Linked DNA regions of Homo sapiens. The protein of the gene in region 1 binds, or shares a complex with, the protein of each later gene. Each region holds a gene or a part of one and is shown on either strand. Other genes may lie near its edges. The genes, in order: DRC7, DRC5, DRC10 and DRC9.

The links.
Region 2: DRC7 (region 1) and DRC5 share a complex: the UniProt entries of both Homo sapiens proteins name them as parts of the nexin-dynein regulatory complex.
Region 3: DRC7 (region 1) and DRC10 share a complex: the UniProt entries of both Homo sapiens proteins name them as parts of the nexin-dynein regulatory complex.
Region 4: DRC7 (region 1) and DRC9 share a complex: the UniProt entries of both Homo sapiens proteins name them as parts of the nexin-dynein regulatory complex.

The regions. Positions count from the first base shown.
Region 1 is NC_000016.10:57,689,893-57,697,827, reverse strand, and holds the start of DRC7 (dynein regulatory complex subunit 7), read right to left. Parts: upstream 3,023-7,935; 5' UTR 2,976-3,022; intron 1,426-2,975; exon of another isoform or gene 1,365-1,425; 5' UTR 1,234-1,364; intron 1-1,233. UniProt on the Homo sapiens protein: Component of the nexin-dynein regulatory complex (N-DRC) a key regulator of ciliary/flagellar motility which maintains the alignment and integrity of the distal axoneme and regulates microtubule sliding in motile axonemes.
Region 2 is NC_000006.12:44,280,689-44,287,710, forward strand, and holds part of DRC5 (dynein regulatory complex subunit 5), read right to left. Parts: coding exon 6,861-7,022; intron 6,592-6,860; exon of another isoform or gene 6,502-6,591; intron 5,845-6,501; coding exon 5,276-5,844; intron 1,872-5,275; coding exon 1,422-1,871; intron 1-1,421. UniProt on the Homo sapiens protein: Component of the nexin-dynein regulatory complex (N-DRC) a key regulator of ciliary/flagellar motility which maintains the alignment and integrity of the distal axoneme and regulates microtubule sliding in motile axonemes.
Region 3 is NC_000012.12:113,218,075-113,225,077, forward strand, and holds the start of DRC10 (dynein regulatory complex protein 10), read right to left. Parts: upstream 3,021-7,003; 5' UTR 2,923-3,020; intron 1-2,922. UniProt on the Homo sapiens protein: Component of the nexin-dynein regulatory complex (N-DRC), a key regulator of ciliary/flagellar motility which maintains the alignment and integrity of the distal axoneme and regulates microtubule sliding in motile axonemes.
Region 4 is NC_000003.12:197,949,970-197,956,991, reverse strand, and holds part of DRC9 (dynein regulatory complex protein 9), read left to right. Parts: intron 1-381; exon of another isoform or gene 382-1,218; coding exon of another isoform or gene 1,219-1,242; intron 1,243-2,844; coding exon of another isoform or gene 2,845-2,989; intron 2,990-5,680; coding exon of another isoform or gene 5,681-5,833; intron 5,834-6,013; coding exon of another isoform or gene 6,014-6,024; exon of another isoform or gene 6,025-6,056; intron 6,057-6,692; exon of another isoform or gene 6,693-6,802; intron 6,803-7,022. Other genes in the region: RPL35A (large ribosomal subunit protein eL33), read right to left, coding at 1,219-1,242, 2,845-2,989, 5,681-5,833, 6,014-6,024. UniProt on the Homo sapiens protein: Component of the nexin-dynein regulatory complex (N-DRC), a key regulator of ciliary/flagellar motility which maintains the alignment and integrity of the distal axoneme and regulates microtubule sliding in motile axonemes.

The DNA.
Region 1 (7,935 bases):
TGGGAGATGGTTTTGAGGAGGTGTCGAACACATAGGGAGTGATTCCCTCTTTGACTTCCTTTCAAACATGGAGAAAGTCTCTGTTTGGTGCTACCCCATCTGTAACACCTTTCTAATCCTGGCAAATATTCCTTTACAACAAAGACAAAGCAGGCCTCCGGTTGGAAGCCATCCTCAGGACAGGACAGGGAAAGGCACGTGTCGATTTGCTTTTAGTATATTTGACAGTTATCTTTTTTTTTAAATTTTTTATTTTTTTGAGACAGGGTCTTGCTCTGTCACTCAGGCTTGGAGTGCAGCAGCACGATCATGGCTCACCGCAGCTTCAAACTCCCAGGCTCAAGCAATCCTCCCACCTCAGCCTCCCCAGTAGCTGAGACCACAGGTGCACACCACCACACCTGGCTATTTTTTTTTTTTGGTAGAGACAGGGTCTGGCTATGTTGCCCAGGCTCAAACTCCTGGCCTCAAGCGATCTTCCTGCTTTGGCCTCCCAAAGTGCTGGGATTACAGGCATGAGCCATTGTGCCAGCTGACAGTTATCAATGACAAGTACTGTGAATGCTGTGGGGATTACTATAGTATTGTCAAGTTTCTTATTTAAATAAATGAATTGGCTGGGTGCGGTGGCTCATGCCTGTGATCCCAGCACTTTGGGAGGCCGAGGCAGGTGGATCACTTGAGGTCAGAAGTTCGAGACCAGCCTGGCCAATATGGCGAAACCCCGTCTCTACTAAAAATACAAAAATTAGCCAGGCGTGGTGGCACACGCCTGTAATCCCAGCTACTCAGGAGTCTGAGGCAGGAGAATCACTTGAACCTGGGAGGCAGAGGTTGCAGTAAGTTGAGATCGCACCACTGCACTCTAGCCTGGGTGACAGAGTGAGACTCTGTCTCAAATAAATAATAAATAAATAGATTGGTTTAAAGAAAATCCTAACGGTAAGGTGATATGATCTACAACCCACCCAAAAATGAGGATGGCAGGTGAATGATATCTCACCTGATCAAACTGGGAACCGAGGCACAGAGAGTGAAGGTGCCTGCACCAGGGCATACAAACAGGGAGTGGGGGGTGGGGGTAACACAGCCTACTCTCTCTTGGCCAAGGCCTGTGTTGGCCCAGAGAACAGGCTTCATTCTGTGATCCACGCAGAGACGCCACATGTGCTCACCATATGTCCTGTGGTCACAGAGCAGAGCCACACTGAGCGGGGACTGCTAGTCACCTACCCAAAGATCCAGTCTCCTCTTCTATACGGCAGAACCCCAGTTGTGTGGGGGGCAGCAGTGTGCCTGGTTTGAATTGCTCAGCTTCCCAGATTCTCTTGCAGCTAGAGGTGGCCCTGCGATGTGACCCGGTTCTGGCCAATGAGATGTGGGCAGAAGTGATTGGGGAGCCCTCTGCCCTTCTCCTCCTCCCACCTGGAATGTGGAGATAAAGTGGGAGGTGGGGCAGCCAAGGCGAGACCATGAGGTGGCCACACATGAGGGCTAAAGCTGCCTGCTATGGACGGCAGGGCCGAGAGATGGGGGAGCTGGGGTCCCCAGCAGTGCCACAGAGGCCTGGAGTGCCACCTCTAGCCTTTCCTTATATAAGAAACCTCAGCTTCTATGGGGGTCCCTGTTCCACACCACCCAACGCCATCCCAGCTGATGCACTATCTGCAGCCTCCCAGCTGGGGTCTTTCCATTTCTGTCCTCGAACATCTGTTTTCCTTACGGCAAATGGGGGTCCAGAGATGAGGAAAACAAACGAAACCCACAGGACAAAGGGGGCGAGTAGTAAGGAAAAAAAGCAGAATCCCCTTGATTTTCTAATCATCCCCCACTTCCCTGGGTGAAGCCAGGAGCAAGAGGGCAGAAGGGAGCAGCAGATAAAGGCTGGCCCCAATTTCCAACTCCACACCCACATGGGCCACCTCGGCCTCCTAGGGAGGTGAGTCCCTGGCCACCAGCCACGACTGAGCCTGGTTGGGGAAACCCTGGCTTTGCCAGTAGCTCCTGCTGGACCCTTGGGTCACTGTCTGCGCCTTTCTGTGCCTTAGTTTCTCTTTATAGTAGGAAGGGAGGGCAGATATTTTCTGTCCAATTCTGACATTCTGTGCTCTGGGACTCAGGAGGGGACGAATGCTCATCTGGCTGGAAGCCACCCAAGGCCTAGGTAGCCCAACACCATTCAGGACCCCAGATCCTCAGGGGAGAACCTCTAGCCAAGCAGCACTTCTCAGTGATCAGATCCATTTGTTGGCCTCTTGGTCCCAGAGACAATGAGCCCAGGAAGGGCAGTCATCACCATTACAAGGCATTTACAGTTTGCTGAATGCCTACTGTGTGTCAGACCTGTGCTGAGGGTTGTACGGAGATCATCTCACTTATCCTCTACTGACTCTATGAGGCAGACACTGAGGACACCCACTTTGCAGATGAGAAGATTGGGGCCCAGAGAAGTTAAGTGCACTGCTTAAGGTACAGCCAGTAAGTAGCAGGTCTGGGATTTGAACCCCTGTATTTCTGGTTGTGAAACCTGTGTGTCTCAGGCTGGAAGAGATATGAGATGGGGAAGTGCTAGAAGGGATGGTGGGGGTGGGGGAGTGGTGGGCAAGGAAAGAAGTAGGCTGAAGAGGAAGCCGACGTGTCAGTCCCAGAACACCATCAGAGGCAGAGCTGGGGAGAAGAACCCACAGCACTTTATTCCCTACACAGGTGGCCTCTTCAGCTATAGCCCAGTGTGGGGAAGGCAGTCTTATCTCAAGGTTCCTTAGATTCTGCCCCAACCCACCGGCCCTTCCCTGCACCCCCTCTCCACCAGCAACTTCCTCCTCCCAACACACATAAACACGCACACACACCCCACCAACAACTTCCCCAGAAAGATCAGGGCTGGAGGCCCCCAGGCAGAAGGGGGCCACCAGCCTCACCCTTTCCCTGCCAGACAGGGTCCAGCCACCCCAAGTCCCTTGCTCCCTCCTCACCCCTCCGAGGACAGCCTGCTCTAGCTGTTAGCCATCTCCATGGTAACAACCTGGGAAGCTGAACGCCGGTCCTGGGAGAGGAGGCTTCTGGGAAATGTAGTCTTCCCAGGTTTCATGGGTCCTTCTGCCAGCGGTGCACTGGTATAGTGGGGCATCAACTTGATAGTTGTTAAACTTTCCAAAATTTTTGTGAAACACAGCCATTATTAAAAATTAAGAGGGCTGGGCACGGTGGCTCACACTTGTAATCCCAGCACTTTGGGAAGCCAGGGCGGGAGAATCCTTTGAGCCCATGAGTTCAAAACCAGCCTGGGCAATATATAGTGAGAACCTCTCTAAAAAAAAAAAAAAAAAAAATTGGCCATGGGGTTATTTACACCACAAAAATTAGCAAACGCCAAGACCAGGGCTTTTCCTCTGAGCCAGCCAGTTGTTAAACATTTACCAGCACAGCACAGCCCCTGCCCCACGGCATGCCGAATGTGGCCTTGATCGAGACAGACAGAAACCAGTGTGGGGCCTGGAGTAGCTGCCAGCTGCGGTGGACAGAACCAGGCTGCCTTGACTGAGTCCTGGGTTCTAGTCCAGGCCGGAGCTGTGATGTAGAACATTACCTCGAAGTACGGGGAAAACCTATCCATTAGGCTAGTGGCTCATGAAAATGTTTAATTTCTTTTAAATTCAGAAGAAAAAAATGAGAATAATAATGACTATATAAGTGTGAATCTGCCCTGAATTATATCTGTGTTTTTACCAATACAGTCCTAAAATATAATCTTCACTGTTTTATTTTTGGAGGGAGGGGTGCATGGGCCTTTTTTGGTCAGGGGATAGGGCTGCCAGGAGGGAATCCAGACTGTCACTGTGCTGACAAGTTTGCACAGTTAGTGTTACTGCTAGAAACTTAGGAATTGCCTCAATTCTCATGAATAGAGAATGATGTTCCCCCTCCCAGCTGGAATATCATGCAGCCATAAAAATAAGCTGTAAAGGATCAATTGCACTGTGGAGAGCTCACGAGACAGTGTGTGTAGTATTTCAGACTTGGTGCTAAAGGATCAATTGCACTGTGGAGAGCTCACGAGACAGTGTGTGTAGTATTTCAGACTTGGTGCTAAGCAACTCGTAATTACCTCTGTGGGGAACTGGCTGGGATGAAGGCAGGAAGGGAGGAGGGAGGAGAAAGGAAAACAGGTGATGCGTTATGCTAGTGGGATGCAGCATAGGCTTCATTGTCCTTTTTCAACCCTATGCAACACTTCATTCCTTTTACATATTTATTCATTCCTTTTTCTCTTCATACCCACTTTCATTTCCCACCTCTATAAAGTAACCATTCTGATGTGTATTTTTTTTTTCCAAAATGAGTATTGTTTGGCATGCTGGTGTTTTTAATATATGTTTAATATGAGACTGAACAAATATATCCTTCTGGTTCTTATATTTTCATGAAGGGCTGTGTTTTTAAGATCTCTCCACGTTATTGTGTGGATCCACACTTATTACCTCTTCGTCCTTCCAGTGACGGGCACTCGGTGTCCAGGTGTTCTAGAGGGAGCTTTCAATGTCCCCAGGCACTGATAGTTGTTTAGGTTGTTGCTGGAAACATGGAAAGATCAAACAAATGCTAAACGTGCCCCAGCCCTGAACCGAATCCCTTAAACACTCATATAAACTCCATAAACCCACCTCCTCGTTATGAACAGACTCATCTCCCTTCTTGCTGTCTGTCATGAGAACACTACAGCCTTCCCTATGTACGTTTCCCTAATAAATGCTTTGGATGGATACGGATCACCCCGGCGCTTAGTGTTTATTTCTTTGGAATTCCAACTGGCCCTACCTCTTGACGGTTTGGGGCAGTCTTGAGGGAACTCCCCAGCAGACATTGGGTGGGCTGGACAGACCACTCAGATTTGCTACCAGCTCCCTTCCATCACAGACAATGCTACACAGGTCTAGAGGGGTCTAGATCTGGAAGAATGTTTCTTCAAGATAAACAACCAGTAGCAAGATTGCTGGCTCAGCAGAAGCACTGTGTTTTTCTCCAGGCAGCTGAAGCAGTCTAGACTCTCCCTGGCTCCCATATCGTCCCTGCCCATTGGTACCATCTAGCTTTCTAGTTCATCAGTTTAATAAGGATACAATGAGGTCTCATTGTCATTTCAGTCTGCAGCTCTCTGATGACTAATGATTTTAAATGTGTCTTCATGAACTAATGTGTTAGTTTTAGGTATTTCCTCCTCTGAAAATAATGATGCCACCTTTGTCACGTATTAAATCCCCCAGGTGTCCATGGGTCTGCCTCTGAGCACTCTGTGCTGTTCCACTGATCTTCTTTCCTATCCCTGCACAGACACCACGTTGCATTTACCAAACTGGCCTTGTAATATCTTTATGTCTAGAGGTCAAGTCTTCCTTCTATGCCCCTCTTTCTGTTTTTTCTTTCTGAGACAGGGTCTAGCTCTGTCGCCCAGGCTAGAGTGCACAGGCATGATCTCGACTCACTGCAACCTCCACCTCCTGTATGCCCTCTTTCATTAAGATTGACTTAGCTATTTGAGGTCTATATGCCTCCATATCAATTTTAAAAGTTTCTGGAGAAGCAAAAAAAAATAAATTAGAATATTTATTTTTTTCCCTTATTTTATTTTATTGTAGAGACAGGGTCTTGCTATGTTGCACAGGCTGTTCTGGAACTCCTGGGCTCAAGCAATCCTCCTGCTTCAGCCTCCCAAAGTGCTGAAATTAGAGATGTGAGCCACCGTGCCCGCCCCAAAATCTTTACTGTAATTTCATTGAATTCATTAACTGATGAAGGATTTATATCTTTTAGTGTTGCCTATCTGACAGCATGGAGCAAATAAGTCTTCTTTTTTCCTGTGTATTTGTTATGTTGTAATGAAAAAATACAAGGAATGAAGAGATTTGGGCAGAAGAGAGAACCAGGCAGGAGCCATGGCAGAAGGGACCCTCTCTGTACCCAGGACCTGATGAGATGATGGCCAAGGCAAAGCTCTGGCTTTGTCACATTCATTCTGGGCCAGGCAGGCCAGGCAGTGGGCAGTCCTTGCAGGCACTGTCTCATTTATTCATTTCCTTCATTAACCCTGTGGGGCAGCTACTGCTGTTTCTGCTTTACAGGCTCAGTAGTTGAAGAATTTGCCCAAGACAAGTTGCAAAGACAGAATTTGAAACTGGTGAACGGAGATCAGGGTCTGTGCTCCCACCTGTGATGATGGCCCACCTCCTAGGTTGCTATTGCTGCTGTGCAATGACGGAGGAACTCCATCCATCTGCTCTGGGCTTTGGGGTGTATTTTCACCATAGCCCCCTTGGCCTTATGGGTGCTCAACATGGCACTTGGAGCTGCTTTTGCAGGAACCGCAGGTGATGAGGAACTCCAGCCCCTCAGCCCCTGCCTAGCCCCAGGATGGAGAGCAAGCCAGAAAAGCAGTGCACCCCCAATGCTAGCCACACCTTCTTATCTGCCCTCTCCTTCTGAGCCAGGAGGCCCAGCCATCCAGGACTTGCGGTCTTGTTGGTCCCACAACAAGCACTAAGCATCCCACTAAGCAGTTTGGGAAACTCTGCAACCCAGGATTTTCCTTGAGACTGGGGGCTGGGACCAGATGATAATTCTTATTCTTCTTCTTTTTTCTGCTTCCTCCTCCTCCTTCTCCCTCCTTCTCCCTCCTTCTTCCTCCTCCTCCTCCTTCTCCCTCCTTCTTCCTCCTCCTCCTTCTCCCTCCTTCTTCCTCCTCCTCCTCCTTCTCCCTCCTCTTCCTTCTCCTCCTTCCTTCTCTTCCTTCTTCTCCTCCTTTTTTTTTTTAAAAACATGGTCTTGATTTGTCATCCAGGCTGGAGTGCAGTTACGTCATCATAGCTCACTGCAGTCTTGAACTGCTGGGCTCGAGTGGTCTTCCTGCTTCTTCTTCCAAGTAGCTACCATGCCTAGATATATTTTTTTTTTTTAAGAGACAGAGTCTTGCTCTGTTGCCCAGGCTGGAGTACAGTGGCACAATCTCAGCTCACTGCAACCTCCACCTCCCAGGTTCAAGCAATTCTCCTGACTCAGCCTCCTGAGTAGCTGGGACTGCAGGCGCACGCCACCATGTCCAGCTAATTTTTTTTGTATTTTAGTAGAGACGGGGTTTCACCATGTTGCCCAGGCTGGTCTCGAACCCCTGGGCTCAAGCAATCCTCTTGCCTTGGCCTCCCAAAGTGCTATGACTACAGGTGTGAGCCACCAAGCCCAGTCAAGGACCAGGTGATAATCCTTAAACTCAGGGACCACTCTGGGATGAGGGCAACCCGGGGAGGCCTGGCCCTAGCTTCAACCCAGCCCATGGAGTGACCTTAGTTGGGCAGGTGGCTGGGCCTGTCTGGACCTCCATTTCCTCATGCCATTACCCTTGGCTGGTCTTTCTTTAAATCAAGGCAGGGTGGGGGAGCTGACTAACTCCTGCGGAGTCAGTGCTGGGCACTTTATTTCTGTCACTTCATTTAATGCTGTCAGGATGAGGTGAGGACTTTATAATCCCCATTTTATGGATGGGGAAACTGAGGCTCAGAGAGGTGAAGTAAAATGCCCAGGATCACACAGCTCCTAAGTAGCCGAGCCAGGATTTAAGCCCAGACCTATCAGATGGTGGAACAGCTGTTTCTCAGGTTACCATCCCTGAGGCTTTGAGATAAGGAAGTTGAGACCTTCAGTGTGAGAAACAGATGTCTGTGAAGATAAGCCCCAAAACACACCAAGTTTGTCCACCAGAACTGCTCCTGTGGCTCAAATGATGCAATGTCCACGCCCCAGAATTTCCCTTCCAGGAACACAGCGCCTTGCATAAAGTGAGGGCCCACCTTCCTGTCTTTCAACTGCTTGTGGGCTGGGAGGGGAAGCGAAGCGCATCCATTTGCAGTCAACGTCAGCACCCAGCATCCGGACGGGGAGGTGGGC
Region 2 (7,022 bases), on another chromosome or scaffold:
GGGAAGCTGAGAGAGGGTGGCTTCTGGGAAGCTTCTCCTCATTCCAAAAAGAGAAGAAAAGGGAGCAGGTGTTCTCCCGGTTTCTGCCTCTGGGCATGTCCCTGTATGAGATGTCAGAACTGTGGCAGCCATCTTGGGACTGACAGAAGCACTAGCGAGGCATTGGCCATGAGACTGGGGTGGGCAGAGCAGAGGGTAGCACTGAACCCAGGGGTTTACCGACCCTACAACCCTCTAATTCTGGTTGTGGGAGACACTGAATATTCCTCCTGCTTAAGCCATTTCTGATTAAGCTTTTTATTACTTGCAGTCAACAGCACCCCCTCTAGAAACTGTGTGTGTGTGTGTGTGCGCGCATGCACGTGTGTGTGCGTGTATGTGCCTGTGTAGGTGAGCAAGGCTGTTCTCATGGGGAGGTTTAGTAGAGGGTTCAGTGACCTAATGGAGGGCCCTGCTCAATGGTCATCACAGCTCCAACCCCTGCTGGGCTGGGTGGGCTAGCCCCAATGTGAAAGAATTTCACGTTGGGAGGCAGAATGCTACCATTCTGTGGTTGTGACCCAGTAGTGTGTTGCAAAGTCAATTTAATGGGTCACAGAAGCATTTTAAAAAATACAATAGAATGGAATGTAAAGGAAAATATCAGCATATATCACGTCATAAATTTCAATATTATGTTTATGTCAGTGTTCATGTAAATTGCATTTTTTTTTTGAGACGGAGTCTCGCACTGTCACCCAGGCTGGAGTGCAGGGGCACGATCTCAGCTCACTGCAATCTCCGCCTCCTGGGTTCAAGCAATTCTCCTGCCTCAGGCTCCCAAGTAGCTGGGGTTACAGGTGCATGCCACCACATTGGGCTGATTTTTGTATTTTTAGTAGATATGGGGTTTCACCATGTTGGCCAGACTGGTCTCGAACTCCTGGCCTCAGGTGATCTACCCACCTCAGCCTCCCAAAGTGCTGGGATTACAGGCGTGAGCCACTGTGCCTGGTCGTAAATTGCATTTCTTACTCTCAGACTTGGTTAAGAAAGTTTTAGAGACACAGTCTATTAGAAAGGACTCAGGCTTTCAATCAATCTTGGGTTTGAATCGTAGCCTTGCCACTTGCTACTGACTTGATGCCCTTGGGCAACTCACTATCCTCTCTGAAACTTAGTTTTCCATCTAGAAAGTAGGGTTAAATATACTTAGTTATATACTTAAATATATTTAGGGTTAAATATGCTTAGGGTTAATATACAGTTACTTAGGTAACTGTAAGGATTAAAGGAAAAATAATCATTGGGATACACAGTATGTGTGCATACTTGATGCAGTATGTAGTATGTAAACTCTGTGATCTTCACAATTATCCCACAAGTACCCCTGGCAGTTGGATTCCACACCCACCCTCACAAGCCCAGAATAGGTGGCTCACCAGCCCGATGTGGTTGCAGGACAGGTTGATGCTGGTGAGTGTGGTGTTGATGGCGAGCACCTGTGACAGGAGTGTGGCGGTGGGCTCAGACAGCTCATTGCCACCGAGGTGCAGCGTGGTGAGGCACTTGTTGGTCTGCAAGGCATGGGCAAGAGCCTGGCCACCCTCATCCTCGATGCAGTTGAGACGTAGGTTGAGGGAAATGAGGTTGGTGTTGTGTGCCAGAGCGTGAGCCAGGGACTGGGCACCGGGTGCACGCACCTGGTTGTTAGCCAGGTTGAGCACACGCAGGCGGCTGTGGCTCAGCAGCTTGGCAGCACCTCGTGCACCACGGTCTCCAATGAGGTTTTGTGACAAGTCCAGCTCCTCGAGGACTGGGTGGTCCAGAAGGCTTCGAATTATGATGCGTGCCTTGTCATCATCCACCTTGCTTCGGGTCAGCTTGAAGATCTGTGGGCAGGCAGAGGGTCTACAGCAACTGCCAGCCAGGGATAATCAGCCTGCCCACCTAGATCTTTGGCAAACTTGGCTCACCTAGTGTTGGCCACCTGGCTGGGTCTTGGAGGGGGCCAGGCCTACCAGCATGGCAGAGTAGTGTAGAATTGGTGGCAGGTAGCAGGGAGGAAAGATCACTGTTTATTGAGCAATTACTACATGCTGGGTATGCTGCTTGGGTCTTCCTTTTTTATCTTTTTTTTTTTTTTTTTTTTTGAGACGGAGTCTCGCTCTGTCACCCAGGCTGGAGTGCAGTGGCGTGATCTTGGCTCACTGCAAGGTCCACCTTCCGGATTCACACCATTCTCCTGCCTCAGCCTCCTGAGTAGCTGAGACTACAAGTGCCCGCCACCACGCCCTGCTAATTTTTTGTATTTTTAGTAGAGACAGGGTTTTACCGTGTTAGCCAGGATGGTCTTGATCTCCTGACCTCGTGATCCACCCGCCTCAGCCTCCCAAAGTGCTGGGAATACAGGCGTGAGCCACCGCGCCCGGCCGCTTGGGTCTTTCACAACCATTATCTCTAACCTTCAGCATCTCGATGAAGAAGAGAAAGTTCTCTCCATTTTACAGACAGAAAATGGAGGCTTACATTATTTCCCCAGAGTAATGCAGTGATTGAAGCAGTTGAGACAGGTTTGGAATCCAAGCCTGCCTGAGGCCTCAGCCCCTCACTGCATCCTCCTCTCCCAGCCAAGATCCACCAGGGCAAGGAGAGGACCTCTTTGAAGGAGGTTGCCAGGGCAAGAACCAGGGAGACAGTGGGGAGGTGGAGAAGCAGGAAAAGGATGAGATAAAGGAATGAAGGAAAGGGGATGGGGCTGGCAGTATGAATATTGTCCATGGGAACCTCTCCCCCTCACCTTCCCGCTGGCTTGTCCCACTCCTCTCTCTCCCTTGAGACCTCTGAGTGTCTGGCCTCTCTCTCTCTACCCTTCGGTTCACTCCTTTTTATACCCCTCTTACCCAGCTGAGTCCTTTGTGTCTCTTCTCTTTTCATTGCGTCTCTCTGGCAAAGCCCTAACCCTGGATCAGCCCCACTCTCTATTTTCTGCATGCCTGTGCGCAAGCAACTGACAAAATAGAAAACATCAGCTGATGGGACTGGTTGCTATCACCGGAAACACCAATAGGCTTGTAACGCTGCATGCCAATCTAACTATATTTCTCTGGCCAAAATACCCTCTTATAATCTACAACAACTATTTCAGCTTTTTGCAGCCTCCTCAGAATTCAGGGGCCTCCTTGCTGAGCCCCCTCTTTCAGCAGGTGAACTCTCCTCTTGCCTTCTCAGTCATTGAATGGGAACCTGTCATTTTCCTGATACCAAGCACTGACTTATTGGTCTATGAACCCGTGCCTCTCTTCTACATTCATCCCCTTTCTTGCAACTGGATGGAGCCTTACACTGGTTTTAAACATATGTGAGTTATTCTGAAGGAACCCAAAGCTCTCATCGGTTATGGCTGTACCTTTTCCCCTTCGCAGCCAAGTTCTTGAAAAAGCTGATCACAGCCACCCATTCCTCACTTCCCACTCTCCCCAGAAACCACTGCTATCTGGCCTCTGCTCCTGCCACTCCACTGAAATAGCTCCCCCTCAGTGACCTCCATGTTCACTAAATCCAGTCCTCAGCTCTATTCCACCCCGTTGCTCACTCCCTCTACTTGAAACATACCCCTCCCTTGCTCTGTGACACAATGCCATGTTTCCCCATTTCCTCCTCCCTCTGGCTTCCTGGCAAGCTCTTCTTCTTCCACTGAGACCACATGCCAGGCCTCTTGTTGTCTTGCTTTTGGCTCTCCCCTGTGAGACTCCATCCAAACCCAGGGCTGCAACTGCCACCTTCATGAAGATGGCACACATTCCCACATTCAATTCAGACCTCTCATCTGAGCTTCGGACCCTCTACCCAACTAACGAAATGACCCCTTCTTTGAGATGCCTCAAACTGAAACTTACACTCTTCCCCCTCAAAACTGATCCTCTTCCCACATTCCCTGTCTCTGCACATGGTCCCTCCAGCCATCCAGCCTCACAAGCCAGAGGTCTTGCACCTCACCTCCTTCTCCTTCCTTCTCCTTCAGATCCTCCCTGTGCCAGTGTGGCCAGGTGCATGCCAGACACATGTCTGCCTAAATATGTGTTGACTCTCTCCACTCCTTTGAGTCTCCACAGACACTACCCTCGCTGAAATGACCCTCACCCTCACCTGGATTTGGCAGTGATCTCCTAGGTAATCTGCATGTCCACTGCTGCCCTGCCCAGGCCATCCTCCCTCACAGACGGAGTGACATTTTCACATGTGAAATCCAGTAATGGTACCTACTTTTTTGCCTAAAACCCTTGGATGGTGTCCCAGAGCTCCTAAGGATAAAGATAGCCTCCTGGACAAAGCCTCCTTCACCCAGCAAGGCTGACCACCTCACACTCTGCGCCAGCCACACAGTCTTCTCTTTCTCTTTGAGCTGGCCATGTTCACTCTGCCCATAGAGCCTGTATGCACTGCTCCCTCTGTCTGGAACGCTCCTCCCTCTGAGACTGTAACTCGTCCTCCTCCTTCTAATCTCTATGTAAGTGACATTTGTTCAGGGAAGCCTTCCCTTGCAAGGTCAAATGCTCCTTTACAATCTCTCATAAGAGTATCTCTTCTTTATAGCATTCATCCCAATTCAGGGGTACCAGAAAAAAGTACAGGATGCCCAGTTAAAAATAAATTTCAGATAAATAAGAACGCCCCATGGAATATTCGGGACATACTTATAAAAATTCTTTGCTGTTTATCTGAAATTCAAAATTTTTGGAGACAGGGTCTCATTTTGTAACCCAGGCTGGAGTGCAGTGGTGTGATTGCAGCTCACTGCAGGCTTGAACTCCGAGGCTCAAGGGATTCTCCTACCTCAGCCTCCTCAGTCTCTGGAAGACTACAAGCGTGCCTGGACCTGAAATTCACATTTAACTGGATGTCCTGTATTTCTATTTGCTACATCTGGCAACCCTATTCTAGTATCAATTTTATGTTTATATGATTGCTGATTAGTGCCTTTATCCCATCAGACTGTTAGCTACAGAGGGCACAAATGATAATCTTGCTCATCCTTGAATCTTCAGCACCTAGGACAGGGCCTGGAGCGCAGCTGTTTGTTCAATGAAACCAACTGGTGAACTGGGAGAGCAGCGCCTTGTTCATCTCTACACCCCCAGAACCGTGTATCTTGGTGCAGGGTGCATTAAAAAACACTTGGCCAATGAAAGAGAAGGAAATAGGAAGAAGGCAATAATAGAGGAGGAAGAGGAGGGGAGAGGGAATCTGAGAGATGCTGAGAAGGGGTGGGGGGAAGGCTGGGAGCAGACAGTACCTTGAGGGTGTGGCATGCCTTGATGGCGGCTGCCAAGGAGAGGCAGTCACGGTAGGTGAAGAGGAAGAGATTCCACTCGAAATTCATGCCGCAGTCCTTGACATCGTACACCAGGTCCAGCTCCTCCAGGTGGCTCAGGCCAGCTACCAGATCGCCCAGTTGGTAGTGGTCAACGGTGGGCTCCTCCATCTCTCCCTCGCTGCCTGAGTCGGACTGGTCGCCCGGCCGGAGCTGGGCCGGGAGCTGCACCGGCGGAAGGAACTGATCGACGTGGACCCTGCGCACGTAATTCCGGCAGAGCGGCAGCAGGTCGAGGATCACCGCAGGGTCTGTGGTGCCTGGGATAAAGTGCTTTAGCAGGTTCTCCAGGTGCCGCTCGAAGAACATGCGTTTCCAGCTGCCGCCATGGTGGGCCACGTGGCACACGGGCCAGCGATGCATGCAGCAGCGGAGCCAGTAGTTCTCACTGTCTATCAGGTTGGCGGTCACAGCCAGTGGTAGGTCAGGGGACAGGTGGTTCAGGACCTTCTGCTGGTGTTCCGGGAGCATCTGCTTCAGGATAGGGTTTTCTTTGGGAACAGAGGAAGGAGCGCAGGGGGTCACAGTGTTGGGGGACACCTCAACATGATGCCTCAGGCTGGGCCTGCCTGGGAGCACCAGGCAAAGGAGAGACCCTTCCCTGCTTAGGGGATAGACAGCCTCTGCTCTCAGGGGGGCTCAAGCAGAGGGTGGGACACAGCCTTTAGCTTTGGGATGTTCCCTGCCTGAAGGTGGACATCTCAGCATCTGTTCTCAGGGAGTTCCCAGACTGAGGAAGACTCTCAGGTCCAACTCTCAATTATCACCTGGTCTGATGGGGGATACAATCCCTGAGGTCAGAGGCTTCCAATCTTATTTGATTCATCCATTTCAAAACAAGAAATTTTTTGAGCACCTACTATGTGCCAGACACTGGAGGTAGCACTATGAGAGACTACTATGTCCCACGTGCTGGAGATAGAAGAGTAAGCAAACAGGGCTCTCCCTTTTGGAGTTTACATTCCAGTGAGGGGAGGCTGACAATAAACAAGTAAAATGAGTGAGACTGGGTGATGATAGTTGCTGTAGATGAAATAATGGCCCTGTCCTCAGACAGCGCCCCATCTGGTAGGAGAGGCTGGCAGTCCATCTTTGGAAAGGATCAATATTACAGAGCACAAAATATGGAACAAACCAAGAGCCCTTACATGGCATGGAAGACTCCATCAGAGTAGAGGGCGGTTCACTTGGGAAGGCTTTCTGGAGGAGGAAGTAGATATGGCTCAGGCTGGGTTTTGCTGGAGAGAGTAGAAAAGGCAAGGAGAGGGCAGAGGCATGGAGGGTGCAGTGTGGGTGGGAGTCTGGTGGGACCTGCCAGTGGGAACAGAAGGAGAAACTGTCTTGGCCCTGGGTGGAAGGGAAGTGTTGAGTGGGTATGAGGATGCCATACGGGAGAGCAGGGGCTGCCCCAGGACCCAGCTTCTGCAGTCTTGGCTCCGGACAGTCCCCACCCACCTAGCCCCCCTCTTGGCCTTCTCCTGCCCACCTAAAGCAGGGACAGACTCACTCTGGAAGTTCCTGATAATGTGCTGAATGCAGAGCTCTGTGAGGAGGGGCACGATGGCCAGTGACCACTCAGGATCCTCAGCAATGATCCGGCGCATCCGACGGATATTGGCCCTGGGATGTGGGTTCCTGGACTTTGCAGGGACTGGTGTGATTGAAGGCT
Region 3 (7,003 bases), on another chromosome or scaffold:
CCCCACAACAAAGAATTTTCTCACCCAAAACATCAATAGAGCTGAGGTTGAAAAACCCTGACCTTTTTTTTTTTTTTTTGAGATGGAGTTTTGCTCTCGTTTCCCAGGCTGGAGTGCCATGGCGTGATCTCGGCTCACTGCAACCTCTGCCTCCTGGGTTCAAGCGATTCTCCTGCCTCAGCCTCCCAAGTAGCTGGGATTACAGGCATGCGCCACCACGCGCAGCTAATTTTTTTTTTTTGTATTTTTAGTAGAGACGGGGTTTCTCCATGTTGGTCAGGCTGGTCTCAAATTCCCTACCTCAGGTGATCTGCCTGCCTTGGCCTCCCAAAGTGCTGGGATTTACAGGCGTGAGCCACCGTGCCCGGCTGCCTTTTTTTTTTAATAGACAGGGTCTTACTCTGTCACGCAGGCTAGAGTGCAGCAGTGCAACCATGGATTACTGTAGCCTTGACCTCCCCAGGCTCAGGTGATCCTCCCACCTCAGCCTTCTGAATAGTTGGGACTACAGGTGCATACCACCATGCCTGGCTAATTTTTGTATTTTTTGTAGAGATAGGGTCTCACTTTGTTACCAGGCTCCTAGGCTCAAACTCCTAGGCTCAAACTAGGATCCTCCTGCCTTGGCCTCCCAAATTGCTGGGATTACAGGCGTGAGCCACTGGGCCAAAAACCCTCAACTTAACATGTTTTTGAGGTTCATCCAGGTTGTAGCAATTATTAGTATTTCATTCCTGAATAGTATTTTATTGCTGAATAGTATTCCATTCTAAGGAAATATCATGAGTTATTTATTTATTCACCTGTTGATGACATTTGGGTTGTTTCCAGTTTTGGGCTGTTAAGGGTGATGTTGCTAAGAACATTTATATTTAAGTCTTTGTGTGGACTTATGTTTTCACTTGGGAGGGGTAACTTCCTAAGAGTGGAATTGCTAGGTTATGTGTAAGTTTATTTTTTGTTTTATTTATTTATTTTTGAGACAGGGTCTCACTCTGTCACATAGACTGGAGTGCAGTGGCACGATCTCGGCTCACTGCAACCTCCGCCTCCTGGGTTCAGGTGATTCTCCTGCCTCAGCCTCCCAAATGGCTGGGATTACAGGGACCCGCCAGCATGCCCTGCTAATTTTTGTATTTTTAGTAGAGACGGGGTTTTGCTATGTTGGCCAGGCTGGTCTCGAACTCCTGACCTCAGGTGATCCACCTGCCTGTGCCTCCTACAGTGCTGGGATTACAGGCACGAGCCACTGTGCCTGGCCTATGTTTAACTTTTTAAGAAACTGCCAACTATATTTCAGATTGGTGGTACCAATTGGTATTCTGCTGTACCTACCGGCAACATATGAAAGCTACAGTTTGTTTATTTATCTACATGATGATACTTGGTATTGTCTTTTTGATTTTTAAATGTCTACTCAACTCTTTTGCCCATTAAAAAAATTGAGTTGTCCTCTTATTGAGTTATAAGAGTTATTTTTATATTCTATATACAACTCTTTTATGACACATGATTTGCAAATATTTCCTCCATGTCTGTGTCTGTGGCTGATCTTTTCATTTTCTTATGAAAATATCTTTTGAACCTCAAAGTTTTTTTTTTATATATTTTTTTGAGACAGGGTTTTTCGCTCTGTCGCCCAGGCTGGAGTGCAGTAGTGCAATCATGGCTCACCGCAACCTCCGCCTCTTGCGATCAAGCAATTCTCCCACCTCAGCCTTATTTATTTATTTATTTATTTATTTATTTTTTGAGCTGGAGTCTCGCTCTATCACCCAGACTGGAGTGCAGTGGCACGATCTCGGCTCGCTGCAACCTCCACCACCCGGGTTCAAGAAATTCTCCCGCTCAGCCTCCTGAGTAGCTGGGATCACAGGCACACGCCACCAGGCCCGGCTAATTTTTGTATTTTTAGTAGAGACAGGGTTTCACCATGTTGGCCAGGCTAGTCGCAAACTCCTGGCCTCAGGTGATCTGCTGGCCCAGGTGATCTGCTGGCCTCGGCCTCCCAAAGTGCTGGGATTACAGGCTGAGCCACCGCGCCCGGCCCTTAGCCTCATTTAATCATCACAAGAAACTCTCTGTCTTCAGTAGGTACAATGAGATCACATCTTAAGGATGGAGATGGGAGTTAAATTCCAAAGTTAGGATAAAGGCAAAAGTGGTGTAATAAAAATTACCTAATTTATTTATTTATTTGAGACAGAGTCTTGCTCTGTTGCCCGGGCTGGAGTGCAATGGCGCTATCTTGGCTTACTGCAACCTAAGTCTCCCGGGTTCAAGTGATTCTCGTGCCTTAGCCTCCCGAGTAGTTGGGATTACAGGTGCGCCTCCATGCTCAGCTAATTTTTGTATTTTCAGTAGAGATGGGGTTTCACCATACTGGCTAGGCTGGCCTAGAACTCCTGACCTCAAGTGATCTGCCCGCCTCGGCCTCCCAAAGTGCTGGGATTACAGGCGTGAGCCACCATGCTCGGCAAAAACAACAACAACAACAACAAAACAAACAAACAAAACTACCTAATTTAAACACTGAAGTGAGATTGCCTGCTCACCGAGGAACGTATGGCCGTTGGGTGAAATGGGAGGGGACTTATAAACTCCCCTCCCACCCACAGCTCCCATGTTTGACTTGAAATAAGTTAACTACGATATGACTCTGCTTGACTGTTGTCCTCCTCGTTTTAGGGATGAGGGAGTGGAGCCATGAAGTGGGCAGGTAGAAGGGCAGAATGGAGGCCGGCTCCCTGCAGGTTGTGGAGCGAAAGGTCCAGACTAAGGCAGGAGCTGAGGGACAGGGTCCTGAAGCTGAGACGAGATCGCAGCGGGGGCTTCTAATTCCTCAGGGAGCCAAAGGACAGAGGGCTGAACCCTATTCCACATCTCCCCCGATCCGCGACCCTTTCCCAACTGGCTACTCACCTGCTCTGACCGCTCCAGGTTTCCCTAGCCACAGTTACCGCCGCGGTCCCTGCGTTGCTAGGTTACCCGCCAATCTCAGAAGGCGAGACTCGGTGTCTGACTGACCTTTCTTTTCACCATTCAATTTATTGTTCCGCTCAGTTGTCCCCACCTCCTGAAGTCTGACCAATCAGAAGCACCGCCATTTTGACCTTTCACCAATGGAAAGACTTGGGACTCCCTCTGGGTTGGACTCAACGAGTAAGGCGGGGAACAAGGGAGGAGTAAGGGGCGTGGATTCTTCGTCCCGCCCCTTCTTAAGGAGGCGGGCAGGGAGTACCGCATCGGCGGCGGGCGAGACCTGCGGAAGGACGTGATAGTTGGCCAATCAGAGTTCATCACGGTAGCCCAGTTAGCCAGTAGGACGCTGTGAAGGGGAAATGGGGCGGGGCCAGCGGGGTTGAGAGGACGGTAGGCGGTGGATAGGAGAGCTGGCGCAGCTGCCCTGGTGGCAGTGGCTGAAGTGGCGGCGGCTTCGGCGGCTGCGGCGGCTGCAACAGCTTCGGGCTCGGGGTTTTGGCGGCGGCGCCGGCGGGCTAGGCTGCGCGGTGCGGACCCCGGCGCGCGGTCCGGGTTGCTGGGGCGGCGCGTGTAAGAATCCGAGGGATGCGACGGCTTGGCCCGAGGGAGAGGGCAGGGATCAGGGGTCAGAGGACGCGGAGTAAGGGGTTGCGGCGCAGCACTCTGGTGTGGGAGGTGGGCCGTACGGGCCCAGAGGGGGCGCAGGGAAGTCTCCACCGCGCTTCTCTCCGTCCAGCCCGGGCCGGGGCTTTGCACCCTCTCTCCTCGCCCCCGACTTCTTAGGGCGACCCTCACGTGGGCTCCCAGCCAGGGGCTGGGAGCACGTGGAGCTGGAGCCAGCTGTCCTGCCTCCTTCTTCCTCCCTCCCTCGCTCTTCTCCCTGGCGCCCTTAGGTGACCCCACAGGAGTCTTGTGCCTGGGTCAGGCTGCCCCAGCGGACAGCGGGATGGTAGCTGAACCTCTTCCCCTAGGCCCTTTCCCCAGCGCTGGCCAGTTGGGTCCTCTGTAGAGGCAGAAGCAAAGCCCGCGGAGGGAACACTGGACCAGGACGCAGGAGTCCCGGGTTCTAGCCCTACTCCTCCACTGTGTGACCTTGGGCAAGTCTCTTCCCCTCTCTGGGCCTCATTTTTGTCTGTCTGGAAAAATGACGTGTTTGAATTCAAATCAGGGGACTGGTTCTAGTCGTAGGTGTATATAGGGTAATGGTTAAGCAGGCAGGGTCCCTGATTCAGACTGCCTGGGTTGAAACTTATAAAAGGCAAGTTAACCACTCCAAGCTTCAATTTCCTCATTCCTAAAGTGGGGATATTAGCTAAGATAGGATTTTTCAACAGCAGCTCAGTTGACATTTTGAGCCACATAATTCTGTTTCGGGAGGTCTCACCTGTGCATTGAAGCAAGTTCAGTGGCATACCTGGACTCCACCCACCAGCAATCCCCCCACTCCCAAGTTGTGACAGTCAAGATGTCTCCAGACATTGCCGATGTCCCCATGGGGGCAAAAATCACCCCAGTTGAAAGCCAGTGGGCAAAGGCAGTACAGGCAGGCAAGCAGTCATATATTAAACAGTTAAACAACCGTGTTGAAGCATTTGAATGCGAGGACTTTAATCTATGGTGGCAGATATCATGAAAATTATGCATGAACAACCCCCCTGCCTCTTTTTTTTTAGCTCATCATTAATGGTAGTGTATTTTATGTGTGGCCCAAGATAGTTCTTCCAGCGTGGCCCAGGGAAGCCAAAAGGTTGGACAGCCGTGAGTTAAAACATAGAAACCACTAGCCATTATGATAATGGTAACATTAAGAAACCTCTTCTCTGTGAGTTAATAAATTCTCCTGCCTTCAAAGTAAACATGGGAGATAATTGTCAAAGCTGAGTAATGGATACAAGGAAGTTCACGTATATATTCTCTGCACTTTTGAGAATGTTTGAAAATATCTGTGGTAAAAAGTTAAACCAAAACGACAATACAACCATAATTCTTAAGACTGCCAAATAGTAGTGTCTCATCTGGGATTTCCTCTTCTGCCTTTCCACTGCTGAGATTTAAAAGCAAAATAAATCCCCAGATCTGGAGGAAACTTAAGAAAAAAAAACTCACAGGAAGTGTGCTGGGCAGAGAGCTACGGGCTTAGCAGCAAGTAGAATGATGTTTACTTTCGCTGCCTTGTTTCAAAACGTTGTACTGTTCCCTGTGGATGCACAAGGATTTGCTTGGAGTTGTTCCAATGATTCGAGGAAGAAGTCAGTTGCTCAGCTGCCATTGACTAGGTCAGTTGGGAGGCAAAGTGGGTTGAGCCCAGAGCCCACAGCTTGAGGAAGGAACCTGCTGCTGTTTGCAAGTTCAAAGGTCTGCAGTCAGATCTGCTGAGTCTTTTTTTTTTTTTTTTTGGTTCTTCTCAGCGGAAACGGGAATGTGCATAAATAGGAGCTGTAACAGGCTAGCTCGGAGTGTTTTACTTATTTAGTTATTTTTAAATTTTTAGTTTATTTATTTTTTGAGATGGAGTCTCGCTCTGTCGCCCAGGCTGGAGTGTAGTGGCGTGATCTCAGTTCACTGCAACCTCTGCCTCCTGGGTTCAAGTGATTCTCCTGCTTCAGGCTCCCCAGTAGCTGGGATTACAGGCATGCACCACCACACCTGGCTAATTTTTGTATTTTTAGTAGAGACCAGGTTTCGCCATGTTGGCCAGGCTGGTCTCAAACTCCTGACCTCAAGCGATCCACCTGCCTCGGCCTCTCAAAATGTTGGGATTACAGGCATGAGCCACCACTCCCGGCTGCTCTGAGTGTTTTAAATTGGGAGTTAAGGATGAGCACTTTTACTGTATTAAAAAATACTCACCAGTTAAAAAAAAATACTCTTTTCCCCTTCCTCGGACACCTAAATCTAAGAGAACAACTCCTATATAAAAATGATATAAAAATCATACATTTTGGAAGTATGTTTCTAACTGTTCTGAGAGGCTGCATGGTAAAGCTGAAGTGAAAGATGTATTTTAAATCTGTATATATGAGCAAGTATATATTGATGATTGAAGCTAGGTGCTGCCTAAATACATGGCCCAGACTTTGAGGAATTATAGTGTAATGGCTGGGAATACAGGTTTGGAGTCACACCGTAGAGCTGAAAGCTTGGCTTTTATTTAGCTGTGGGTCCTTGGGCAGGATACGTAATCTGTCTGTGCCTGAAATACCCACCACACCCATCCTGTAATGGGGGGATAATAAGCCTGCCTATCTCATGGGGCTATTAAGAATTTTCAGTTAACTTTTACTTATGAAGTGCTAGTAGGGTCCCTCATACATAGTACGCACTCATTGAGTATTAACTATTATTATTATTACTATTTTGAGACGAGTCTCGCTCTGTCGCCCAGGCTGGAGTGCAGTGGTGCAATCTCGGCTCACTGCAAGCTCCGCCTCCCGGGTTCACGCCTTTCTCCTGCCTCAACCTCCTGAGCAGCTGGGACTACAGGCGTCTGCCACCACGCCCGGCTAATTTTTTGTATTTTTAGTAGAGACGGGGTTTCACCATGTTAGCCAGGATGGTCTTGATCTCCTGACCTCGTGATCCGCCCGCCTCGGCCTCCCAAAGTGCTGGGATTACAGGCATGAGCCACCGCGCCTGGCCGCATATTAACTATTATTTTAATGGTTGTATTTTTTTGTCATTTAATTTAATTAAATTAATTTATTTATTTATTTGAGGTGGAATCTGGCTCTGTCGCCCAGGCTGCAGTGCAGTGCACCATCTCGGCTCACTGCAACCTCTGCCTCCTGGGTTCAAGTGATTCTCCTGCCTCAGCCTACAGAGTAGCTGGGATTACAGGCGCAAGCCACCACACCCAGCTAATTTTTGTATCTTTAATAGAGGCGGGGTTTCTTCATTTTGGCCAGGCTGGTCTTGAACTCCTGAGCTCAAGTGATCCACCCGTCTCTGCCTCCCAAAGTGCTGGGATTACAGTTGTAAGCCACCGTGCCCAGCCTTTTATTTTACTTTATTTTTTAGAGAC
Region 4 (7,022 bases), on another chromosome or scaffold:
GGGCTTAGGTGGCAAACTCCCAGTTTCTTGTTGACATTTTCAGTGCAATTTAAAGATGTTAATTTAAAAAACTACCTGTGCTGTAGAGATCAGTAACCCTCAGGGGGCAGACAAAAAGACTGTTACTGCATCAGTTAGAAATGTAGTACTACCTGGGCAACATAGTGAGGCCCATCTCCACAAATAACTAAAAAGTTAACTGGTTGTGGCTGCACATGCCTGTGGCCCCAGCTATTTAGGAGGCTGAGGCAGGAGGTTTGCCTGAGCCGAGGAGGTTGAGGTTGAGGTTGCAGTAAGCTGTAATCACGCCACTGCACTCCAGCCCAAGCAACAAAACAAGACCTTGTCTTCAAAAAAAAAAAAAAAACCATACAGCAAAACTGATGCCTTAGTTGTTTTATTTTAGCATATCCCCAAGAAATCTAAAATATTTAGGAGGCCTGCTTAAAGTGCAATCTTGAACTTTACCAGATTAAAACATGAAGCCAAAGAAAGCTGCCACCTTTCCGTGCACTATTCCCAACCTCCATGTACCTACCATAGGATTGCTTTTTATGAGTGGAGTAATATGGCTTAATTTTATTTTAATATACTGGAATGCTTTGTCCAGTCACAAGTCCCAAGAGCTTCTCATCCCAGTCTATCCAAATGAACTGCCAAAGCCCATCAACATAATCTCCATTCAAATTTTAAGTTTCCCAATCTGCATTGAACAAATGCATAGTATCACAAAGCACTTGGCAGGTGTGGTGGCTCATAACTGTATCCCAGCACTTCAGGAGAGGCCAAGGAAGGAGGATTGCTTGAGCCCAGGAGTTTGAAGCCAGCATAGGCAAGAGTCAGACCCTCTCTACAAAAAATTTAAAAATGACCCAGGGATGGTGGCATGAGCCTGTGGTCCCAGCTACTTCAAAGGCCAAGGGAGGATTGCTTGAGCCTTTGAATGTGAGGCTGCAGCGAGCACCACTACACTCCAGCATGGGCAACAGAGCAAGACTCTGTCAAAGATACTCGCATTAAAACCCGTTCCCTTCTAAATCTCTGTACTCGCCCTGTAATTTTCATCACATGTCTCTCTGACCCCCTTGTACTCCAAAAATGCTGAGCAACCTCTATCATTTTAAGCATGTAGCAAATCAATTTAAGGTAGTAAGTTTTTTAATCCACTTAAAAATACAAGAGCACAAATCCACATTTATTTATTGATTTTTCGTTAGTTTAAATCCTTGAGGGGTACAGCATCTGCAGGGAAAAAAGAACACAAAACATTAGGTGAATGTTATATATACGTCTACAAATCAAGAACCGTAATACGGATAAATCTCTGAAAGGCTACCAATTACATGTTCTAGTGGTAAGGAAAGTTTTTATAGCCTTCAGTCTCTACGTGAACATACCGTAAGAACCGGCACTCATAAAAAACATGTACTGGCCAGGTGCTGTGGCTCACACCTGTAATCCCATCACTTTGGGAGGCCTAGGCGGGCAGATCCTAAGGTCAAGAGATAGAGACCATCCTGGCCAACATGGTAAAACCCTGTCTCTACTAAAAAATACAAAAATCAGCTGGGCATGGTGGTACGTGCCTATAGTCCCAGCTACGCAGGAGGCTGAGGCAGGAGAATCGCTTGAACCTGGGAGCTTGCAGTGAGGCAAGATCCCACCACTGCACTCCAGCCTGGTGACAGAATGAGACTCTGGTCTCAAAAAAAAAAAAAGAAAAAGAAAAACATGTACTGAAGGTACATTTAATTTTGCTTCTTCTAAAGACAGAGTAAAAGCCTCCTCTGTTGATAAACCCTAATGAACCACTTAGCAGGGTTCAACAGTACCCCCTGGCCCCAAGAATACATGGTATGCATATATTCTTGGTCCCAAGAATATACAGTCTACATTCCAAAATGGACCCTAAAGAAAAAGTACGAACTATTTGAGAAAAATTACAGGAGAAAATTGAGAAAAATTTAGAGTCCAAGGCTGGCACCAAAGACCTGAGACCTAGGAACATGAGAGTCTGTTTTCTTCATGTACAAAATAAAGCTACTAACACCTGTTCTAACAAGACTGACATGATGGAAATGGCAAAATATTAACAATTATGCCAGGCGTAACTGTTGAATTGTTGCTTTCTAACAATTACTTCAGTGCCCAATAAATATCTTCACCAGAAAACTATTTATTCAAGGCTGGCTGTGGTGGCTCAAGCATATAATCCCAGCACTCTGGGAGGCCAAGGTGGGCAGATCACTTGGGCTCAGGAGTTCAAGACCAGCCTGGGCAACATGGAGAAACAAAATACAAAAATACAAAAAATTATCTGGGCATGGTGGTATATACGCCTGTAATTCCAGCTACTCGGGAGGCTGAGGCACAAGAATCACATGAACTTTGGAGGCAAAGGTAGCAGCAAGCTGAGATCATGCCACTGCACTCCAGCCTGCGTGACAAAGTGAGACCTTGTCTCAAAAAAACACAACAAAAACCCCAAAAATTAGCTGGGTGTGGTGGCACACGCCTATGGTCCCAGCTACTTGGGGGGCTGAGGTGGAAGGATTGCTTGAACCCAGGAGGTCGAGGCTGCAATAAGCTGTGATTATGCCACTGCACCCCAGCCTGGGTGACAAAGTGAGACCCTGTCTCCCCCCAAAAAAAAAACAAAAAACAAACAACCAAACACCTAATTCTTTCAATTACTATCTCTCCAGTGTTCTGCAATACACAAATTTTGCAGCATAATTTACTGGTGTCAATTTCACAACCACAGAAGTCCTCAGAAGTCAAAGCACAACACCTTGAACCTAGTCTGATTCATCAGACGTCCATTTTGCTAAAAACCATACTCACCACTCGGATTCTGTGTCCAATGGCCTTAGCAGGAAGATTGCTTCGGAATTTGGCACGAACCATGCCACTGTTTCCATGGGCCCGAGTTACTTTTCCCCAGATGACTCTGGTTTTGTTTGGTTTGCCGCCAGGAGTGACTGTGTTGCTGATTTTAAAAAGGGAAAGAAGAGGAATACAAGCTGATATAGTTGGATACAAATTCAAGGTGACCTCTACACGAGTGGCTCTCAACCCTGGTTACCCACTTCATCACCTGAGAAACTTTAAATGCCTAGAACACCATTCATTCAACAGATACTTATCGAGTAACTATTGTATGCCAGGCCCTTCTGTAAAATACAGCAGCTATAAAACAAAAATCTTTCACATGATAACCAAGTAAGTTTAAGGAAAATACATAGGTCAGATGATAACAGAGGCAATATTGAAAAAATAGCAAAAAAGGACAAGTGTGAGGATATTTGTGTGTACAGAAAGGAGGAATTACCTGCCATTTTAAATAGCCAAGGAAGGTCTCACTGAGGTGACCATGGAACAAAGACTGGAAAGGGAGGGGAAATGCCATGAAGTGATCACGGGATGACTAGCGCAGGCACTGGGGCCAAGGAGTGTGTGTCCTGGCCGGAAGAAAGACTGAAGACACCAAGGGGTTAATCCCAGCTGAGATAAAGAGAATTATGGAGCTCTTAATGACGGGCTTTTACTGAATGAGAGAAACTACTGTGGTTCGAGCAATGTACAAAGGATATGACTTTATATATATTTCCTTTAAAGACCACGGGGTTGTCTTGTCACCCAGGCTGCAGTACAGTGGCCCAATCATAGCTCACTGCAGCCTCTATCTCCTGGCATCAAGCAATCCTCCCACCTAGGGCTCTCAAATGCTGGGGCTACAAGTGTGAGCCACTGCACCTGACTTAAAATTTTAAAGGAACACATTGGCTGTAGAAGAAAAGGTGGGGCAATGATTAAAACACTTTCCCAGAGATTTTAATTGGCTTGGAGTGGGTGAAGACAATAGGATTTGCTCTTGTTGTCCAGGCTAAGGTGCAATGGCACGATGGCTCACGCCTGTAATCCCAGCACTTTGGGAGGCTGGGGCGGGTGGATCACGAGGTCAGGAGTTCGAGACCAGCCTGGCCAACATGGTGAAACCCTGTCTCTACTAAAAATACAAAAGTTAGCCGGGTGTGGTGGTGCGCGCCTGTAATCCCAGCTACTGGGGAAGCTGAGGTTGCAGTGAGCTGAGATCACACCACTGCACTCCAGCCTGGGCAACAGAGCAACACTTTGTCTCAAAAAAAAAAAAAAGTCTACAGCATAAACATCTTTAGGCATGCATAAAAACTAATTTTGGCCTGGTGCAGTGACTTGCGCTATAATCCCAGCACTCTGGGAGGCCGAGGCAGGTGGATTACTTGAGGTCAGGAGTTCAAGACCAGAGTGACCAACACTGTGAAACCCCGTTTCTACTAAAAACATAAAATTAGCTGGGTGTGGTGGCACACGCCTGTAATCCCACCTCACTCGGAGGCTGAGGCAGGATAATCGCTTGAACCCGGGAAGCAGAGATTACAGTGAGCTGAGATTGTGCCATTGCACTTTAGCCTGGATAACAAGAGCAAAACTCTGTCTCAAAAAAGAAAGAAAAAAAGAAAAGAAAGAAAAGAAAAAACAAGGGGCGGGGCACCGTGGCTCCTGCCTGTAATCCCAGCACTTTGGGAGGCTGAGGTGGGTGGATCACAAGTTCAGGAGTTTAAGACCAGCCTGGCCAAAATGGTGAAACCCCATCTCTACTAAATATACAAAAATTAGACAGGCATGGTGGCGGCCGCCTGTAATCCCAGCTACTCAGGAGGCTAAGGCAGGAGAATCCCTTGAACCCGGGAGGCGGAGGTTGCGGTGAGCCGATATTGTGCTACTGCACTCCAGCCTAGGTGACAGTGAGACTCCGTCTCCAAAAAAAAAAAAAAAAAAAAAAAAAACCCATAATTTTAAGGCATTAACAAAATGCATTAAGCACAAGTGTTCTAAAAATCCTTAAATTCTGGCAAAAGGAGCCGAGAAAAAAAATTAGAAACCTTAAAAGGATCACAATATAAGGAATTACCTCCTTTATTGCTTACAAGTGCAAAAGGTACCTAAATCCAACACCACCCTCAGAAGTAACGTCCTTCTAAAACTCCCCATTAAGTTCCTTAATGACGCAAAATAGAAGCCACAGCAATACCAATCCAGCCTGGCCAACATGGGGAAACCCATTCTCTAGTAAAAATACAAAAATTAGCCGGGCGTGGTGGCACACCCCTGTAAGCCCAGCTACTCAGGAGGCTGAGGCAGGAGAATCGCTTGAGCCAGGAGGCAGAGGCTGCAGCGAGCCAAGATCGCGCTACTGCCCTCCAACCTGGGCAACAGAGACTCTTGTCACAAAAACAAAAAAACAATACCAAGTACTTCAGCTAAATCTTTTGTTTATTATTTCAATAGGATAATGAGGCCAGGCGCGGTGGCTCAAGCCTGTAATCTCAGCACTTTGGGAGGCCGAGGTGGGCGGATCACCTAAGGTCAGGAGTTTGGGACCAGCCTGGCCAACATGGCAATACCCTGTCTCTACTAATAATACAAAAACTAGCCGGGCGTGGTGGCCGGCGCCTGTAATCCCAGCTACTCGGGAGGCTGAGACAGGACACTTGCTTGAACCCGGGAGGCGGAGGTTTCGGTGAGGGAGACCAAGTCACTGCATTCCAGCCTCGGCAACAGAGCAAGACTCCGTTATATAAAAAAGAAAATGAGGCAGATCTCAAAAACCCAAAACCTACCAGTGTCATAAACTTACTTCTTTGCTTTATATACATAAGCGCATCTCTTGCCCAAATAGAATTCTGTTTCATCTCGGGCGTAAACACCTTCAATTTTAAGAAGAGCTGTGTGCTCCCTTTGGTTCCGGAGACCCCGCTTATAGCCAGCAAAAATGGCCTTGGACCACAGCCTAAGACACAAAAGATACACAACATGAAACATAAGCTTCAAAAAACCAATCTGACTTGTAATCACCCCCACCCAAAAGTTACTCAGAGCAAACATCTAAGTTTTTTCTTGCCAATTTTAAGCTCGCATTTACGTTCACGTCTAACACACAAAAATAAAGAACTATATTTAAAACGCGTACCTTCCAGACATAGTTCCTTTTAGAAGTCCCGTTCCCAGCAGGCCTTAAAACAAACAAAAAGATTAGTTTAAAACCAAGCCACACAAGTTTCCCACCTCGTCCCCTCTCGTTTAAGCCCCTAAAGCAAATTCCTTTTGGATGGGAGTTTCATGTAGGAGTTCGGGGACAACAATGCCAGAACATCCATATGAAACGCAGGGTCCGGCAAGACATTCAAACCTCAGAGAACAGCTGGTATCTAAGCAAACTTCAGAATGAAGACAAAACTAAGGGACAGGAGTCACAAAAATGACTCTCAGAAAAGCCTGAGAAAATGCATGCCGTTATCAGTAGGCAACACTCAGGAAAAGAAATGAAGCCTTAAAGAGAAACACACACGTAAGACTTTTATGCAATGGCTGGGGGAGAAAAGCTGAGGAAAGAGACTGGTCAGACAAGCCAAGGAAGGTATGGACTGGGAGGAAACGGATGAAGGAAGCACTGCCTCATGGACAACTGCACACGAACAAAAACATCGTTTCACTCCGTTCAGGCCCAGGAATTTAACTGGGATAACCCGGGCAGCCGTTCTCCGGGTGTCAGGGGACCAAACACCATCAGCCCAACATCTCCTCCATCCTGTTCTCCCTCTTCTTGAAACCCGTAGAAATCAATGGCTGGCAGAGACTCCGATACGCACCGGCGACTCGCCAAGGCACAGGAACAAACCTACTCCGGTTATTTGCCCCCAAATTTCAGCAGCAGACCCTTCACTCACCTCCACAGGAGCCAAGATGGCGGTAAGAGAAGGACGAGGCCCCGCCGCGTGGCCTTGTGGGATTAAACATCTTTCGACTCCGCCCTCAATTTAGGCATCTTCTCCAAACGCCAGAAAAACAATCCTCGGAAATCGGCTTCGCACTGAAATAAGCCACATTCAATAGCACTCTTACAATTATTTTCCTAAGTCCTTTCATCTTGGTAGGCTGCAAAATGTACTACTTGGGAACAAGGGAAGGCAAAATGGTAG